Regions from separate parts of the Homo sapiens genome. Here regions 1 and 3 are each linked to region 2. Evidence: fine-mapped expression QTL. A gene starts in region 2. Each other region holds a variant in brackets. All regions are shown on one strand. Distances are between the middles of the regions.

Region 1 (5,836 bases), 40 kb after region 2:
GTGGCCAGATAAGTATTCAAACTCTAGGTCTTACTAACAGTGTATTCTGGAACGAGGGATTCAATCTCTTTGAACTTCAGTTGACTTCCCTATAAAAATGGGAATAAAAATAACTACATTACAAAACCTTTGCAAGGATTTATATTAAATAGATATATAAATGTCTCTAACACAATACTTAGCACATCTAGATGTTCAAAAGATGAACTCTCCTCTCTTCTCTTTTCCATCCTTTTCCTTTTTAGGCAAAATATGTCATTGCAACCATTTGCTGTCTAGATATTTGACATAGCAATCTGGCTTTGAAGATAATGGGCTGTGGAATATTTATTTCATGGATGCATGTTGGATCCATATATCTTTTCCTACCATTGTTTTGTCTTTTGAATTTTCCAGAAGAAACTTATATTTCAAATGGGATAAGAACATAATAAAGATGTTTGTAAAATTCCTTTAATAGGAATGAAAACACTTGACTTACTATCTCAAAGGAATACAGAGAAATAGATGAGGATTTATTTTGTATTTTTAATTTCTATATGTAAAGTGTTACAAATTTGGACAAACCTCTGTTGAAGACCTAGACACAATTATAGTATTTTTAAGGAAATGCACATATGGCTACTTTTGATTATAACCAGTTGAACCTGGCTTTTTAAAAATGTGTTACCTAAAAAAGTTGTAAATGAAATAGCTGTGGGGGACTTCAGCAGTGATCAGTCTCATTTTATATCTGAAAAATTTAGGGAAGTGAAGCAACTTGCCTGATGTGGCCATTGAAAGTTAGGAGTCAGTGAATCACCCCTTCTCTAAGTTCTGTGCAGTAGAAAGTAGTCACAAATGCTGAAGAAATGACCACTGTGTTAATGGCAGATAATGTCAGATTAAAAAAAGCAGATGAGCTGGAGGTTAAAGTGGCAGCGTGCTGTAACCAAGCCTCCAAATCAAGCCCTTGGAGCCGCTATAAGCAGAGCTAGCTGTGCAAAGCTGACTCCACATATGATTGCCCTGCCAGCCTTGTGAAGGAGACGAGGCCTGCCTGGCCAAATCAGACACCACAGAGTGCAGTTCAAGGAGAAAGATGAGCCCTTGTGGCTTCTGTCTGAAAGAATGCCTTGTCGATGGGCAGATGCTTTCAAAATGCCAGAAAATATTCATTTTAAGTACTATTTGCTCTGTAATTATATCTAGAGTATTAATTTGTTTAGCCTGCCTCTGTCAACCATTTGTATCTTATCAGGGAAATTGCTAACCTAGTATCTGCCTAAATTATCATGATTAATTTTTTTTTTGGTTATCACTTTTCTTATTGTTTTGTAGATTTCTCCCTTAACATCAAACAACTTAGTATAATACTTCACAAATGAAGGTTCTTTGAAAATTCTACAGAATGTTGTTGCTGTTGCTTATTCAAATTTATATGGAGTTAGTTCTCCCAAGTCTCCAGGAGCTAGTTCATAGTTCTGAATTATAAAACTGCAAAGCCCAAAGAGAAAGGAAGAAAAATGATAGATAAGGTTGAGGGCTTTTTACCACATGGTAGTCATGATAAAATTAGGAGAAAGAATGAGTTTCTGGACACAAATAGCAGCTTATTCCCTAAAGTTAAGAATCTAGTAATGAAATATAAGGAACTACCCCTTTCTTAAGTCACCTCATTAAGCAAATTAGTTTGATATTACAGCAGGAAGAAACAGGGGCAGGCTTTAAGGACATACATTTTTAATTTAGTTCTTTATATGCCCATTTTGCCACAAAGAATTTGATGCACGTAAACCATTATTGAGAAAAGGATAACTCTTTTTTTCCAGGAATTTGGCACCTAACACATTTGCATCTAGAAGTGTGGATAAGAATGAACTATTCAATAAAAGGCTCAGTGAATAAGTTACATATTTCAAATTTGTTAAACTCTGTGCATTTGGAAAACTCCAGGAACTAAAATAATTGGGAAGGTTGACAATGGAAGGCACATTGTCAATTGTCTCCATGTGGAATCAACAACCCTTAGGGGAAACACACGTTGGTTTATTACTTGCTAATACTTTGTTCAGCTTCTTTCTCTTTTACTGGGTCTTTTTCTTGCTCCTTTACTCCCTTGCTCTTTCCTCCAGATAAAGTCTGGTTTTTGAGTACAGAGTACATTAATTCAGTACCTTCAGTCTCTGCAATCATCTATCACAAATTAAAGTCATTAAAGATATTTTGCATAATGTTGACTGCAAAAAGTAGTTTTAAAAGGATATACTTGTCTGGGTAGGGTGGCTCACGCCTGTAATCCCAGCACTTTGTGAGGCCAATGCAGGTGGATCACCTGAAGTCAGGAGTTCAAGACCAGCCTGGCCAACATGGTGAAACCCCATCTTTACTAAAAATACAAAAATTAAACCAGGCATGGTGGCATGCCTGTATTCCCAACTACTCGAGACGCTGAGGCAGGAGAATCCCTGGAACCTGGGAGGCGGAAGTTGCAGTTAGCTGAGATCACACCACTGTACTCCAGCCTCAGTGACAAGAGTGAAACCCCATCTCAAAGAAAAAAAAACAAAAAACAAAAAAAAAAACAAAAAGGACATTCTTTTTTCATGTAGTAAAAACAGAAAATGCAGCAGTACTTTAGCTGGATGGGTAGCTGTCTTATAATGTATTTATTTCCATTTCTACTAATGGAACGATGTAAATGAGGTATGGCTTGATCTGTCTGCATTCACCTCTGAGCTATTTCTATGTTCTCTTGATTATAGATGATAACTTCCTACTCTGGCAAATGGTGTGTCTTTTTCTACTCAGCAGAGTGCCAACGCGGGGCCTGTACACGGCTTGTTTCTTTGGGTCATGATTTATTATTCTCTTGGCCATTTTATTACTATGACACTGCCTTTATGTTAATCATTTTATATTCCAAAGATTTTGAAGAGCATGCTCAGAATATGGACTATTCCTTTAAAGTCATTGCTGCTCTTTAGTTTATGAACAGAAATCAATTTTTTTATTTATCTCAGTGGTTCTTAACCCAGGGTGCAAGAACAGAATCACCTGGGAGGCTTTTAAAAAATTTAGACAATAATGTCTGAGTTGGGCCTGGGCTCAGAAGTGTTTTTAACCACCTTCCACCTTTCCCCAAGATGATACCACTGAGCCTTCAGAGTTGAGAATCAGAGAGCTGTGTACACAGCTGTCTTCTGCTGTTTGGAGAAGTAAGGCTGCAGAATAGCATAAGAGACCCCATAGCCAGCCTGTTTGGCTTCAAACCCTGGCTGCCACTTTGTACCAGTGTGACTCTAGGCAAGGTAGTTAACCACTCTGATCCTCAATTCCTTGTCTGTAAAATGAGAATGGTGATAGTAATAGAACGGAACAGAGAATTGCTAAAAGGATTACCTGAACTGATGCATATACAGCAGCTAGAATAGTGTCTGGCACATGGCATGTAGTTTATAGGCTATTAATAAATACTTAATTCTCACTTCCAGCATTTTTTAATTTAAAAATGTCTCCCATATGTTAAGAAGAGCCTTATTATTTGTGATTTATGCATTTTAAGTGGTTAACAAGTTGGTGCTCCTAAGCAGTGAACTAGGATTTTCTATTGTTCCCTTGTTTCCTCATCCCCATAATCACCCAGCTCAAGACAACTCAATTAATGATGATATTATT[T/G]CAATAACATTTGATTATTTATACCCACACTTTATTCCAAAGTGACTTTGGGTACGTATCTTACAAATATATATGTAATATATAAAGTTAAAAGAGCTGAATAAAACAAGACCAGAGGAGAAACAAGGGTAGAAAGGCAGATTAGCTTTTAAAGTCTGGCTCTCAAGAAGGTACCCTATAATGTCCCGTACTCTTTTAGCCCAGGCCCACATTGCTGAAGCCTAAATTCATATCAAAGTGATATTTCGCATGATATGTGCAATAGTTTTCTCGCTAACAGGAGAAATAGAGAAAACACTTTTATTGTTGCTGTTTTTGTAAGTGGGAAAATTTAGGCTCCAGAAAATGAAGCACATTTTTCTTGTTGATTTTACAGTCAGTGACATTGAAATACCAATTCAAATGCTATTTGTTTTACCTGGAAATGATATAATTTATATCATAATATTAGATAAAATAGAAATTCTTTAAAAATACCTGTTAGACATTACTGCCTTACAAAAGACAACTGTTTATATTCATTGTCTAAAGAAATGAGCCAAAAATGTGTGCCAGATAATGCATTTATTTCCATTTCTATGATTCACTTTTATCAAAGTGTGCCACTGCATGTGGTTAGCCCTCAAGTCTATAAAAGGAGACTAATGAGGAGTTGAGAAGTTTGGCCTAACATTCACCCACAATCTCCTCTGGACATCCTTCCTCTGTCTTTATTACATACCCATGTATATAATTACATGGATATAAACCTACAGCTGGATATGCAGGACACCCATCCTGAATGGCTGCCTGGCAGATGGATAGGTTGGCCTATAATCCCTGAATAGCCAGAGAATATGGGGCCTTCTTAAGCATGAATCTGCTAAGACAAGAGAAAGACAAAGTAACTGTCAAGTCTAAATTTGTTAGAAAGCCATTTAGTACTCCAACACTGTTAGCTTCAGGCTTGATTGTGGAAACATTTCATTTTCTGTGTCAGAGGAGGCAGGTTTGTCATGTTGCACATTAATTAATGATGATGTTAAACTATCCTGGACTGTCTTGTTCCAAGACTAAAATTTTCCAAAGACCTTCAAATTTACAGTGCTCTTCAAGACTTCCCAGGGGTGTGTATAGCTGTGTGTGTGACGAATATATGTATATACACACTATTCTTCCCATTTAGCAAATACTTAACCCCATTGAACATGATATGCTGGCAGACAAAGTGAGAATATAAGGTGGTATCTCCGGGCTAATCTAATTTTGGTTTTGGTCTTAAGATTGATAGTATCTATATTTCTGACTGATAGTTTTTCAATTCTCATATTTTTACCAAAAGATGAAGGATGTTAGAGTATAGAATCTTCATCTGTGTTTTTTTATTCAGCACATAGATAATGATAGCTTTTAATTTCTTTCTTTAGCTTCAGGGTAACTGGTGGGTTGTACTTAAAAATAAAATTATCCTTCTTTATGTACCATTTACTGCCTTATGGGATTAGTCATTATCACCAGAAGCGCTGCCCATTCATTCATCGGTTGGTACATGGCCCTAGGCTAAGTGTTGTGCAGAATATAGAGAACAGTGGTAACCAAAAAAACTTACATGGTAGTGGGAAAAGCATGGATTTTGTTGTCTAGTCTAGGTTTGAATCTCTATTATTAATTTGCTGAGAAAATTCTCAGTTCTCTTCCTTTACATGTCTATCCTTTTGCCTGTTTACACTGTCTTGATTAATGTAGTTTTGTAGCAAGTTTTGAAATCAGGAAGAGTGAGTTTTCTAGTTTTGTTTTTTTTCAAGTTTGGCTTTCCTGTTTTGGATCTTTTGAATTTAAAGATTAGCTTGTCAATTTCTGCAAAAAAATGTCAGCAGGTATTTTGATAGTGATTGTAGTGAATCTTTAGATCAATTTGGGGAGCATTGCCATCTTAACCACATTCAGTCTTTCAATCCAGGAACATAAAATGTCTTTCTATTTAGGCCTTTATTGATTTAATGAAATTTTGTAGTTTTCAGTGTACTCATGTTGCACTTTTTTGTTAGGTTTATTCCTAAGTATTTTAGTCTTTATAATGCTGTTATCAATGGAATTGTTTCCTCACATTTATTTCTAGTTTGTTTATTGCTAGTCTATAGCATTACAACTGATCTTTGTATATTGGTATTGTGTTCTGCAGCTGTGCTGAACTCATTAG
Region 2 (5,802 bases):
AGAAGGGCTGGGTTATTAAATTGAAAAGATTAATCCCGGAGCCTTCCCCTCTGTCAAAAAACCCTGAAAGTGACTAAATTGACACCAACTCTGGATGTTCCTTAGGAAAAAAACAAAACAAAACAAAACAAAACAAGATTAAAAAGGGCCCAATTTAAGACCCTTATTAATACATCTGCAAGAGAGCAAAGAATAACAACAACAACAAAAGTTATACAGTCAATTTTCAATGATACATCGTCCCACTGGTGCCACCGGGGCGCCACCACCCAGCACCCGAGACCCGCCGCGCCCCCGGAAAAAGTGGGAAGGGACGTAGGGGGATGCTGAAGGAAGTACCTTGTTTTGTCTCCAAAGGGCAACATAGCAAACGTGGGAAGTTCGTTTTCGAACTCCGCCGATCCTGGACTCCAGGAGGCTCCGTAGGGGCAACAACGCGCGCAGGTGAGGTGAGGTGAGGTCGGCGACTCAGAACCAGCTCCCTCACGGCCCCGGCCTCCGCGCCGCCGCCCGTCGCCTCCCGCTCGCCCCGCGCTGCGCCGCCCCCTGGCGGGGAGCGACCGGCAGAGCCGCGGCCGCGCGCCGGCGAGTGGGACCCGGGCGTCGAACCCGGGCGGGCTCCTCGACCATCACTGCCGGGCGTGTGTCACCCTCCCGGCCAAGACGGCCAGCACCCGCTGCCCGACGGCCGCTGCCCAGAGCAGGCGGCAGCGGGGCACGGACTCTTTCTGCAAAGGGGCGCGTCCTGGAGTCCACGCACCCCGACTATGCATCAATTCCTCAGGCTTCGGGGCACCCGCCCGCCAAGCACTCTCTGCTCCACTCTTCTTGTCCCTCTGCTCCCAGTCTCAATTCCTCCCCAACTCTCCCGCGAGCGTTTCCCACGAGCGCCCCGACTGCCCGCTGCGCAGCCGCCTCCAAAAGGACAGGCTCCCTCCTCCCCGCCCTCCGCAAGGGCCGCCCCGGCGCTTGGCTCTGGACCAGAAAGAGCTGGCCTCTGGGGTCTGCGCTGCCCCTTGGGGTCCGCTCCAGGCGGCGCCTCCCCTGCGCCCTTTGTGTGCACGCCGCAAACCCCTCTGCAGAGCTCTACTTTTGGCGGCACAGCCTTCGGCGGAAAAGCGAGTGAAAGGAGGCGCGCGGGACAAGCAGGAGACTGGAAGGGGGGAAAAGGCAACCGCACTCACTTTGGCAAGGTTCCGTCATGTTGCCTTTGGGCTGTCCCGTGGACTCGTCCCTCACCCCAGCTTCCCCGCCCAGCCAGGGCCAGGGCGAGGGGGGACGGGGGAGGAGCGGAGCCATCAAGACCGACTTGGAAATGGTGCTTCCGGAGCTGCAGGGAAGGGGCTCAGAAACTGTTTGGGTTTTGCTGATTGGATTTTGGGGAACCAGAGGGCTAGAGAGGGGCTAGGGGAAGGCCCGTGAGCACGGATGTATGAAAATAATCATGTTCCCGGGGAATACCAAGAGGGTCGGGGGTGAGGGTGGGAGGTCGGCAAGTACATTTTTGTATTTGAACTTTGTGAGCAAGTTGTATCAAATCCGACACTTGAGTTTTTCGACTGTGCTCGCTTAGAGTTGAGGTTTCTACCTCGTAACAGGACCGAGGACCTACTTCAAAAGCAAAGGGCCTGGGAACAGGGGTGAACGAAGGGCACAATTCAACAGGGGAGAGAAATCAGCCCCGGGTCTTCCGTGGGTCCTCTTCTTACCTGGTGGCTTTTCTAACAAAGTATGAGAAGGTAAAGTCCCAGTGATCGTCCAGCCATGCTTCGACCGAGTCCTGATCCCTCTGCTGCTGCTTCTGCTGCTGGGGCTGCTGCTGCTGTCGCTGCTGCCCGAAGCTGGGGCCGGCCCGCTCCATGGTTGGCACCGCGCGCCTCGGAGGCTCTCTGGTACTGCTTTTCCACCCCAGCTGGGGTCCGTCCCTCAGAAGAACAGGACTCGGCCTCGAGACCCTCCCCCTTCGTCCTGCTCCAGTCGGGCCGGCTTTCGACAAAGCGGCCGGAGCGCCAGGCCAGCCTCCTGCCCCGCCCCGCCCCGCGCGGTTCTACGGGCGCCCAGGTGTGGTGGGCGGGGCCAGGCGCAGCTGCTGCGCCCCCCCCACCCGGGGTCCGGCAGTGTTCCGCTCTCGCAGGCTCTTCAGTCCCCTGGTTCCCAGGAGGCGGCGGCGGCGGCGGCAGCGGCAGCGCCCGGCGAGCTCTCCGGAAGCCAAGTGGCGGCGGCTGGAAGGAGGCCGCGCGGCCGCTGGGGTGCGCTGTGTGCCAAGCCGACTTCTGGGGAGCGCGCTAGGTGACTGGGTGTGTTCTCAGAGTGCCCCAGGGAGGGAAGGTCGCGATGTGGGAAGTTTTGCCCGAAAGTAAGAGATGATGAGACCCTGGGCCCTTTTCCTGGGGCCTGGGAGTGCAATGACCTTCCCGCCTAGCTTTTCCCTAGCCCTACGCTTGGGTCTGGGAGGAGCGGGACCGACCTCCTTCAGAGCCCAGCCCGCTCAGTGACTTAAAGCGGTCCAGCCACGGACCACTGCGGGTGGAGAGAGCTGGGGCGTGTGCTAGCAAGAGAGATTTGCAGGTGTAGGTGGGTAACTTGCAACAAAGCCATACCCGTGCTTAATGTTAATGATAACAGCAATAATTATAACTTAAGTGCCTTTAACCATTGCCTCAAACTTCCCTTATGCATAACTGGAAAAAGATTTACTTGGAAAAGAAAAAGCAAACAAATAATTTCCAATGCTTTGTGCATGAAGTTAGAAAACAAGGGCACCTCTGTACAATTAGGTTAATCCGAGAGCACTGGCGCAACCCAGGTGCAGTCGAGGGCAACCAGTTATCCCAATTTTAAATTAATGCATCATTTTAATTAAATTGGAATTAACACTCCCTCAAAAGTATCCATTAAAAATGGCTCAGCCTTTTTGTCCAATCCCTATCTTGCTTCTTTAAAAAAGGAATTGGTGTCATCCTTTGCTTTGTCTGCATCCCCATCTTCCTGTCATGCATTGGCAGTTTTAATATGGCATTTTGCAATGACCTATATTTTTTGGTAGAATTAAATCTGGAATTATGGGTTGCACAATGTGTGAATGACACCATTAGCAGTGATATAAAAAAAAATGAGTTAGCTGATATACTTCTGACAACTTCCTTCTAAATACTCTTGGCAAGAATTTAAGGCATTATTCACTACATAGAAACACATCATTAAATTGATAATCTGAGAACTTTTAAAAGTATCTTCTAGTCCCCCAATGCAATGGTTTATCTTTCCTTCATTGAGTAATTGACCTTTTGCGACTTCAGTTTTTCTGAAACTTTACTGCTGTATGCAGGTAGCCACAACCAAAGAAAAGCAATCAAAGCAGTAGAGTATGAACTAATGGGTGATAAATTATATTGGATTTAGAAATGAGAATTCTCTCCTAATGTGTTACTATGATAGTGATTATAGTGCTCATGGAATACAGTCATGCGTCACCGAACAACAGGATACATTCTGAGAAATGTATCCTTAGGCAATTTCATCCTTCTCTGAACATCACAGTGTACTAACACAAAATAGATGGCTCAGCCTACTACACACTTAGGCTATTGCTCCTAGACCACAAATCTATACAGCATATTACTGTACTGAATACTGTAGGCAATTGTAATGCAATGATATTTGTGTGTCTAAACATATCTAAACATAGAAAAGGTACAGTAAAAATATAGTATTATCTTATGGGACTCATATATGTGGTCTGTCGTTGACTGAAAAGTGGCACATTACTGTGGAAAGTTTCTCCTCAGTACAGTTTTTTCTTGTGGAAATCCATGCATTCCTCCTAACAGGAGATCAATCGTAATTTAAAACTCTGCTTATCTACTAAAGATGCAGTGAATTTGGGGCTTGAATTATTTGCTTTTGTTGGATACTTGATTAAATAAACACGTATAATCATTTCAATGTTTGTATTCCCTCCAAAATTCATGTTGAAACTTAATCCCTAATTCAACAGTATTAAGAGGAGGTGCCTTTAAGTGGTGATTAGACCATTAGGGCTCTGCCTTTGTGAATGCATTAGTGCCTTTTTAAAAAAAGGCCCAAAGGAGACAGTTGGCCCCTTCTATTCTTTCCACTATGTGAAGACACAGCACTGACCCTTGCTGAGGATGCAGCAACAAGGTGCCATTTTGTAAGCAAAGAGCAGCCCTCACCAGTTGCCAAATCTGCTGGCACTTTGATTTTGGAGTTTCCAGCCTCCAGAACTGAGAGAAATTAATTTCTATTGTTTATAAATATCCCAGTCTGTGATATTTTATTACAGCAACACAAATGGACTAAGACAGTGGGTAATATCAAAATGTTCATTTTTCTCTCCTAACCTGAAAGGGTTAAATTATCAGAAACCAGGAAGGTTTCTGAAAAATTGCTTCAAGAAAAACAATCTATAGGCTGGGCACAGTGGCTCATTCCTGTAATCTCAGAACTTTGGGAGGGAGAGGTAGAAGGATACTTGAGCTCAGGAGTTTGAACCAGCCTGGGCCACATGGCATGACCCCATCTCTACACAAAATTTTTAAAAATTAGCCAGGCATGGGGGAACACACCTGTAATCCTAGTTATTCGAGAGGCTGAGGCAAGAGGATTGAGCCCAGGAGGTCAAGGCTGCAGTGAGCCATGATCGTGCCATTGCACTTCAGCCTCAGTGACAGTGTAAGACCCCCGGCTCTATAACAAAAAAGAAAAAAAAAGAAAAACAGTACATAGATTCTCTCAATAGTGAATCTCAAGTCTGTGTGGTATATATGATAGTTTGGGAGTTACTGTGAAGGCCTATTACCTGAGAAACATATCACAAGGGATTGGGGAACAGAAGTGTCTCAAACAGTTCTAGTCTCTGGGAGATTCAGCCAAAATGTGTAACTATACCTCCTGTAAATTTAAAGTAGTTAAAGGTAAGCATATTTTGAACTGACATTACCTGGGCCTCTTGTTTTTCAACTCCATTTTATTCTTTATCCCAATTTGCCCAATTATTTTGTTTTAACTTGGCATGAATTGTTCTAAGCACCTCAAATCTTGTTATGGAATTAGTTGAAGAATAAGTAAATCATAAACACTCCCAGGATATAACTTGAAAAATGCTGTTAATGCTATTTATAACAAACAAATGAGCAATGATGTATGTATGTGTATATGTATGATATATATATGTGTGTATATGTATATATATATTTAATTTTTGTAAATGACCCAGTCTGTGGTATTTTGTTATTGCAACACAAGTGGACTAAGATATATATATATATATATATAAAATCAATGATATATATGTGTATATACATACATATATGTCATTGCTCATTTGTTGCTCATGAGCAACAGCTTAACTAAAGACCTTCAATGTATTCCCACTGTGCTAAAATAAAATTCAAACTCTGTAACGTGGCTTATGGGGTTCTACATTATTTGGTTGTTACCTACCTGTACTGCTAAAGATTTTGGTCATACAAATAGAAAAAACAAATGCAACAAAGCAAAAACACAAAAAAGAAATATAAGGCATAAAAATGAAAAAGTAAACATTCTCCATTTGCAGACATGAGTATCTATGAGGAATACCCAAAGGAATGCACAAAGCAACTACAAGAATTAAGAGGTGATTCAGCAAGCTTGCAGCATAAATGGTCAGTATACAAAAATCAATTGTATCTCTGTATACTAGTCTTATGGGCTGATTTGTTTCCCCAGATTCATATGTTGAAGCCCTAACCCCTAGTACCACAGAATGTGATTGTATTTGGAGATAGGGCCTTTAAA
Region 3 (5,836 bases), 350 kb after region 2:
GAATGGCAAATGAGATGGATGTTCCACACTTATCTACAAGGGATATGGTGAAGAGGTATTCGGTTTGCAGAATTCAAACAGTCCCTGTTTAAGTTTGAATGTAGACTTTCTCTTTGGTTGTGCTAAGAAAAGGAGATGGATTTGAGTCATGGGTCATGGGCTTTGCACTTCCCTCGGCTAAGAAAAAAAAAAAAGCTTGAAGCAGCTCAGGAAAGAGCCCAAATTTCACACGTGTGGAACTGGTCTGAAGCACTGGAGTGAGTCCCAACCCTAAAGAGTACTGTAAAGTTAAAGGGATCATGTTACCTGAGGTCTCTGGAAAAGCCCCGAAAAGAGAACATTGCAGTTCATAACACAGGCCAATAGCAGGTCACGCTAACTGAGGGCCTATTACATCCCAGACAATTCACTGACAATTCTCTTGCTTTATTTTAATTAATCTTCAAAACAACCTGAGGTAAGCATTATTCTTTCCTACAGTTTACAGTTGAAAAAAATTGAGTCTTACAGAAATCAAGCAGCTTGCTCCAGTAAATGAGAGTCAGAATCTGAACCTTGGGCTCGTGCTTTTAGGAGCCACGTTCTCGTGACCACACAGACATCCTCCCCTTCTTAAGAAAGCACCAGATGTCCTTGGAAATTTATGCCTTTAAACGTTGGCTCTGGAAAGTAGTGAGGGACTGACAAGTGGCCCCACATGAGACCCAAGCCTTTGAACCATATGAATTTACTCTAATACTCCCTATAAACAGATGTCAGCATAAAGAATTTAAGAGGAAAACCAGTCCCTCCATTGTTAAAAGTTTACCCTAAAGTATACCAAGTGATGACAGTTTCTCAGGCAGCACCATCCCTTAGTAAAGCTCTAACTTTGTGCCATATTAAAGATATGTTAGCTTTACTGGGGTTACGAATTTGATTATTTTTAAATGGTTGGCAATTTAGCAGGTCATATTTGCCAACCCCTTAAGGCTTTTCTTGAAACTATAAGAAAAGGTACTCCTCACTTCTGCAAGTGTGACTATTTCTCTATTGTATACCCATCCAAAACAGGGTTGCAGCTCCATGTTCTCATTTCTATGTTTATATATTAGAATCAGCAAGGATATTTACTATTGTTATGAGCATGCATGACAAAATTTTTCATTATAATTATGTATAACTTTTAACATTTATATAGGTATATAATTTGTATGTTGTAGTTCATAATTACAGAAATAATATAATTATTATAATTAATAAATTTAATAACAGGAAGTAATTAGTATTTTATAGAACCGTAAATTCCCATATGTGTTTTTTTCTTTTACACATTTTTTGCTTCCTAATTTGTATACTGATTATTTATGTATCTCCTCAACTATATTATAAGAACAATTAGGTAAGGACTGTAACCTAATTGTAGTCCTAGTTTTTGTGCCACAGTGGTATTTATCCTAGTTACGCTGAGAGGTTAGTAGTCTTTAAATTTTATACCTGAAGTACAGTACGTTTAAAATAGTTTTGAGATACATATCTGAGTTTCTCTATCATAGCAATACCTTCTATTTTTTGTTTTTCTTCCAGAGCCTTGTAAATTGCTTCAGAGAAGGATTTTTAAAACTAGACATTGTACACCTCTTCCATAATTTTTGCCAAATATGTCACTTACACTATTATCTAATCGAGTAATATTTTCTTTAAATAAACTCACGGCCTTACCTAGAATGCTGTCTATGATGGAATTGTGGAACACTTGCAAGTGGATATCTTGCCTTAAATAAGTATTGGTAAAAATTAATACACTGAAAACAAAATTCTAGCTTTATATTCTTACCTGCCCTTAACTGAACTGAGGGGAGAGAGAGAGAGAGTAGAAATTATTAGAGAAACATGACATACACACTGGTATTAATATGAGACTTTATCCTTCACATAATTAGATTAATTGGAAGAAAGCTTTAAAGGGTGTAACTTTTGAAATTATCTAATGTGCGCTACTTAATATCATTTTGCTTACTATCTATAATATTGCTTACAGCCATGGCCCACTTTGGGAAGCATGCATTATCCCATGACCTCCAAACAGAACACACATCAGACCTGAGTTTATATCATGTCTTCTTAACTGTTTGATCTTTGGCAAGATACTTAATTCCTTTAAGCCTTGATTCTTAATCATAAAAGACGGATAATAATATTTACATTTGAAGATCACTTTGAGAATTTATGAGGTAATAATCACACCGCGTCTAGTCCTGTGCCTAGAATTTATTAAAAAACATGAAGACCTACTAAATGCCAGTCACTCTCCTTGGTACTCATGGTACAGAGGAGCACTTGACTGAGAAGCGTTCTGCTTTTAGCTTCTTTTGAGGAAAAATCAACTACGAACATCTCAATAAACAAGCAAAGTCATTTCAGGTGTGATAAAAGGCTCTGAAGTAAATAAAACCAGTCGATATGAAAGAAAGTGACTGCTATTCAAGAAATACTCATTTCCATCCTGACTCTCACCCCTATATGATTGGTATTTAGTACACAGGAAAAAAAAGACTGCATTAAGAATATGCTTGCTTATTTATGTCAGGCAGGTGCAAACAGTGAGTGCAAGTAACAATGGCAGCTAAAAACATATATAAATACATGGCCCTAATATTAAGCTTCTGGATTAAGAAATTTAAGATCTTCCTTCTGAAGTTATTTTCTGTAGAATGTCTGATCTTCTCTTAGAAAACATTTAATTGTTCATGTCATGCAAATTAAATACAGTTAGAGGTTTATCACCTACTTTTGTCATGGTTTTGTGTGTGTGTGTGTGTGTGTGTGTGTGTGTGTTTAATCTCTAGAAGCTGTTTTATTGTGTTTGATGGGTTTGACTTAGAGTTGAGAAAATTTTTTCACATAATTCGAGCTGCTAACATTCTTTTGGAAAAAAAACTAATAATTAAAAAATTGCCCATATTTTTATTTGTACACAGATTAATTTCACTAGGTAATTTCTCAGAACAAATATTTTTTGACAAAACTTCTAAAAACCTGCAATATAAGAAATAGTAAGCCACTCATTTTAAACTGAACTAAACTGAACCTTCTACAGGCTGTATAGAAGTAGGAACTTATCACTGAATTCA[A/G]CTATCAGAAAAGAGTCCCTTAATGGTCAGGGCTCAGAGGTCAGGGTGTAGGTGATGACAGAATGGATAACTGAGATGGAATAATTTGCTTTTGTACCTGAGACAAAGGATGGATTTATTTACATAAAGAGAAACAAGTTCTGGGATGCCAAAGACCTATTATTTGACCTGTGGAAGATAAATTAATTAATTTGGGGCATTACACACTAATTTTGGAGGGCCAGGAAAATGGTTCTTCTCTTTCAATTTCTTCATTACTTAGCCACTGTAGTCATTTGCAGTGATTTTGAGTTTTGTTTCTTTGTTAGCATTCTTCTGATGTCTAAATGGCATAATTATTGGAATTAAGATTTTGAAGAATCAATTGGAAGAGTCTGTAGTTGGATACTCAATTAACAACTATTGCCAAGGCAGCTACTCAGCTCTCACTGTCTTTCATCTCAGCCATAATTGAATCCTGCTTTTCTCAAATAACAATGAATCTTTTGATCTCTGTACAGCAGGAAAGATCAAACTGATCCTCAGAATCCACAAATGCATGTCTTTCACCCCCGAAACCTTCTTCAAAGATGCAGTTAAATTTGAGTTGCAGTTATGTTTTCAGTATAATTACCAGGCACAAAAGAAAATTACTTCCTTTATTATCATAACGAAAAAACACATTTCTTTCTTCTTCCAGTTTTTTTTAATGTTACATTTTAAATCGTTTCATGTAAATTTTACTTTTTCTCTGGCAACTTACAATAAAGCCTTTCAAAGTGATTTCATATGGTTTTTTTTTTTTTTTTCCTGTCAGAGCTTTTACCTCTAAAACAAGTAGTTCAGTGCCACTGGCCAATAATTTACTTTAGAAACATAATGTTTTCTGTTCTCCTGAACAGCAATTATGAATGCTTAACAGACCAGATGATGTAGTTCTTGTTCTGACCCCAATATTTACTATTTGTTCTTTAGCAAGTGAAATTTGAGTTCTGAACTCCCAGTTTCATATCTGTAAAACAACAATATTTTGCCCATAATGTTATTTGAAAGGAGAATCAAATGTAAATGCACATGTGCTGCTTTTTAAACATTGCAATAAACTCTACAATGTAAGTTTTATTACAATAAAACTTTTTACTATCATGGCTTTAAAAGAACTCAAGCAGCATGCAAGGGTTCATAAAGAGTTGCAATGGTTAACTTCATTTTTTTATTGCTCACTTTGTGCAGCCACTTACATTTGTATGGGCAGTTGGCATTTTGAGAGCTTGAATTTAGTGCTGAAAGCCTCAGTTCTGCTCTAAACAAACCTGTGAAGAGGACCACTGAGATTCCAGAGGTAGGAATTTGGACAGGTCCAGATCTACCCTTACTCATACTCTATCAGGCTTGATGTATGTATCTGACCAATGGACTCCTCAAGAACTTCATGAAAATTTACTAATAGCAATAATGACACAAGGGATACTCCATCGACAATAACATCAATTTAATGACAAATCTGTGTTAATATTATCCTCTTCTGTCGCTCATTACCTCATTCACCAAACCTTTGACAAACAAAGCTACTCTAGAATTTACTCTATGATTTGGTCCAAATGGCTCTCATCTGGAGAGTTCTCCAAAATACAAATCAGGGATTTCAGTTCTGCAGAAAATTGGAGACCCCTTAAACAAATGTCTGAGATCATGTTGCATTTTATTTCACAGAGTAAGCTGAAACTGAGCAGAGCTGATTGAGAAGGTGATGTCAGAAAAAGGAGCCTAACAAACAATAAGACACTGTGATGGTAAATTTAATGTGACAACTTGGCAGGCCACAGTGCCCAGTTGTTTTAGCAAACACTAATCTAGATGTTGCCATGAAGATAATTTTTAGGTGAAATTAACATTTAAATTAGTAGATATTAAGTAAAGCATATTAACCTCCATAATGTGGATGGGCCTCATCCAATCAGGTGAAGGCCTGAAGAGCAAATACATGTTTTCCAAAGAAGAAGAAATTTGGCCTGAAGACTGGAACATAAAACCTTATCTGAGTTTCTTACCTGTCCATGAAATTTGGACTCCATACTGCATGATCAACTGTTACTTGAATTTCTAACCTGCTAGCTTGCCTTACAAATTTTGTACTTCTCAGCCCCTACAATTTAGTGAGCCTATTCCTTACAATAAACCTTTCTTTCTTTCTCTCTCTCTCCATACATACATATATACACACACACACACACACACACACACACACACACAATTCTGAGAATGCATGGATTATAGGTGTGTATAATGGATATATGTATAATGGATATATATAATGGATATGTACACATGTATCTCCATCTATGTGTATGTACATATGTAAACACATATACACATACGCAGACATGTGCACACATTCTCCCACTATATATATATGTATGTATAGTGTGTATACATATATGTGTGTACATGTATATTCTATTGATTCTGTTTCTCTGGAGAAACTCTAACACAGGTCTGCTGTGATTGTTATAAGAAAAGACGTTTTGTTCACTTATTTTTATAATCCAACAAAATGAAGTGTAGAAGTGTACAACAGTTTAAATTGTAAATTCACTCACTGAATAGTCCTTTCAAACTCATCTACTTCCAGTTTTCCAACATTTATTTTTTCCATTTCAACTAAATGTCTAACTTGAAATCTTATAGCAGCAGAATTCTGTGTTCAAGAAGCCAAGTTTCTAAATAAAAGTTTTCTTTCCTGC

Which allele goes with the higher level. Positions count from the first base shown, and alleles are read on the strand shown. Sizes are in standard deviations (SD) of each study's normalised expression. Not every link is listed here.
In carriers of allele G in region 3, the expression in aorta of the gene that starts at base 1,994 in region 2 tends to be higher than with A alone (small effect, 0.20 SD a copy in GTEx).

What was found. PIP is the estimated chance that this variant, and not a neighbour inherited with it, causes the effect.
Region 1: its variant is the best candidate, but not a certain one, in a credible set for the expression of PDE5A in whole blood (INTERVAL, PIP 0.80).
Region 3: its variant is the best candidate, but not a certain one, in a credible set for the expression of PDE5A in aorta (GTEx, PIP 0.79).

Annotation. Positions count from the first base shown.
Region 1 is chr4:119,667,107-119,672,942 of GRCh38, forward strand. No RefSeq gene overlaps it. Among named protein-coding and RNA genes, the nearest start is that of PDE5A, 41 kb to the left of the region's middle. The variant T/G (reference allele first, on the strand shown) is at 3,658.
Region 2 is chr4:119,626,811-119,632,612 of GRCh38, forward strand. PDE5A (phosphodiesterase 5A) reads right to left here and starts at 1,994. Exons shown (of 21, transcript NM_001083.4): 1 at 1,710-1,994. The coding sequence starts at 1,861. It overlaps LOC107986192 (a long non-coding RNA gene), which reads left to right and starts at 980. Exons shown (of 1, transcript NR_165235.1): 1 at 980-3,945. RefSeq lists silencers at 428-707, 1,928-2,327 and an enhancer at 838-887.
Region 3 is chr4:119,977,068-119,982,903 of GRCh38, forward strand. No RefSeq gene overlaps it. Among named protein-coding and RNA genes, the nearest start is that of LINC02502, 40 kb to the left of the region's middle. The variant A/G (reference allele first, on the strand shown) is at 3,114.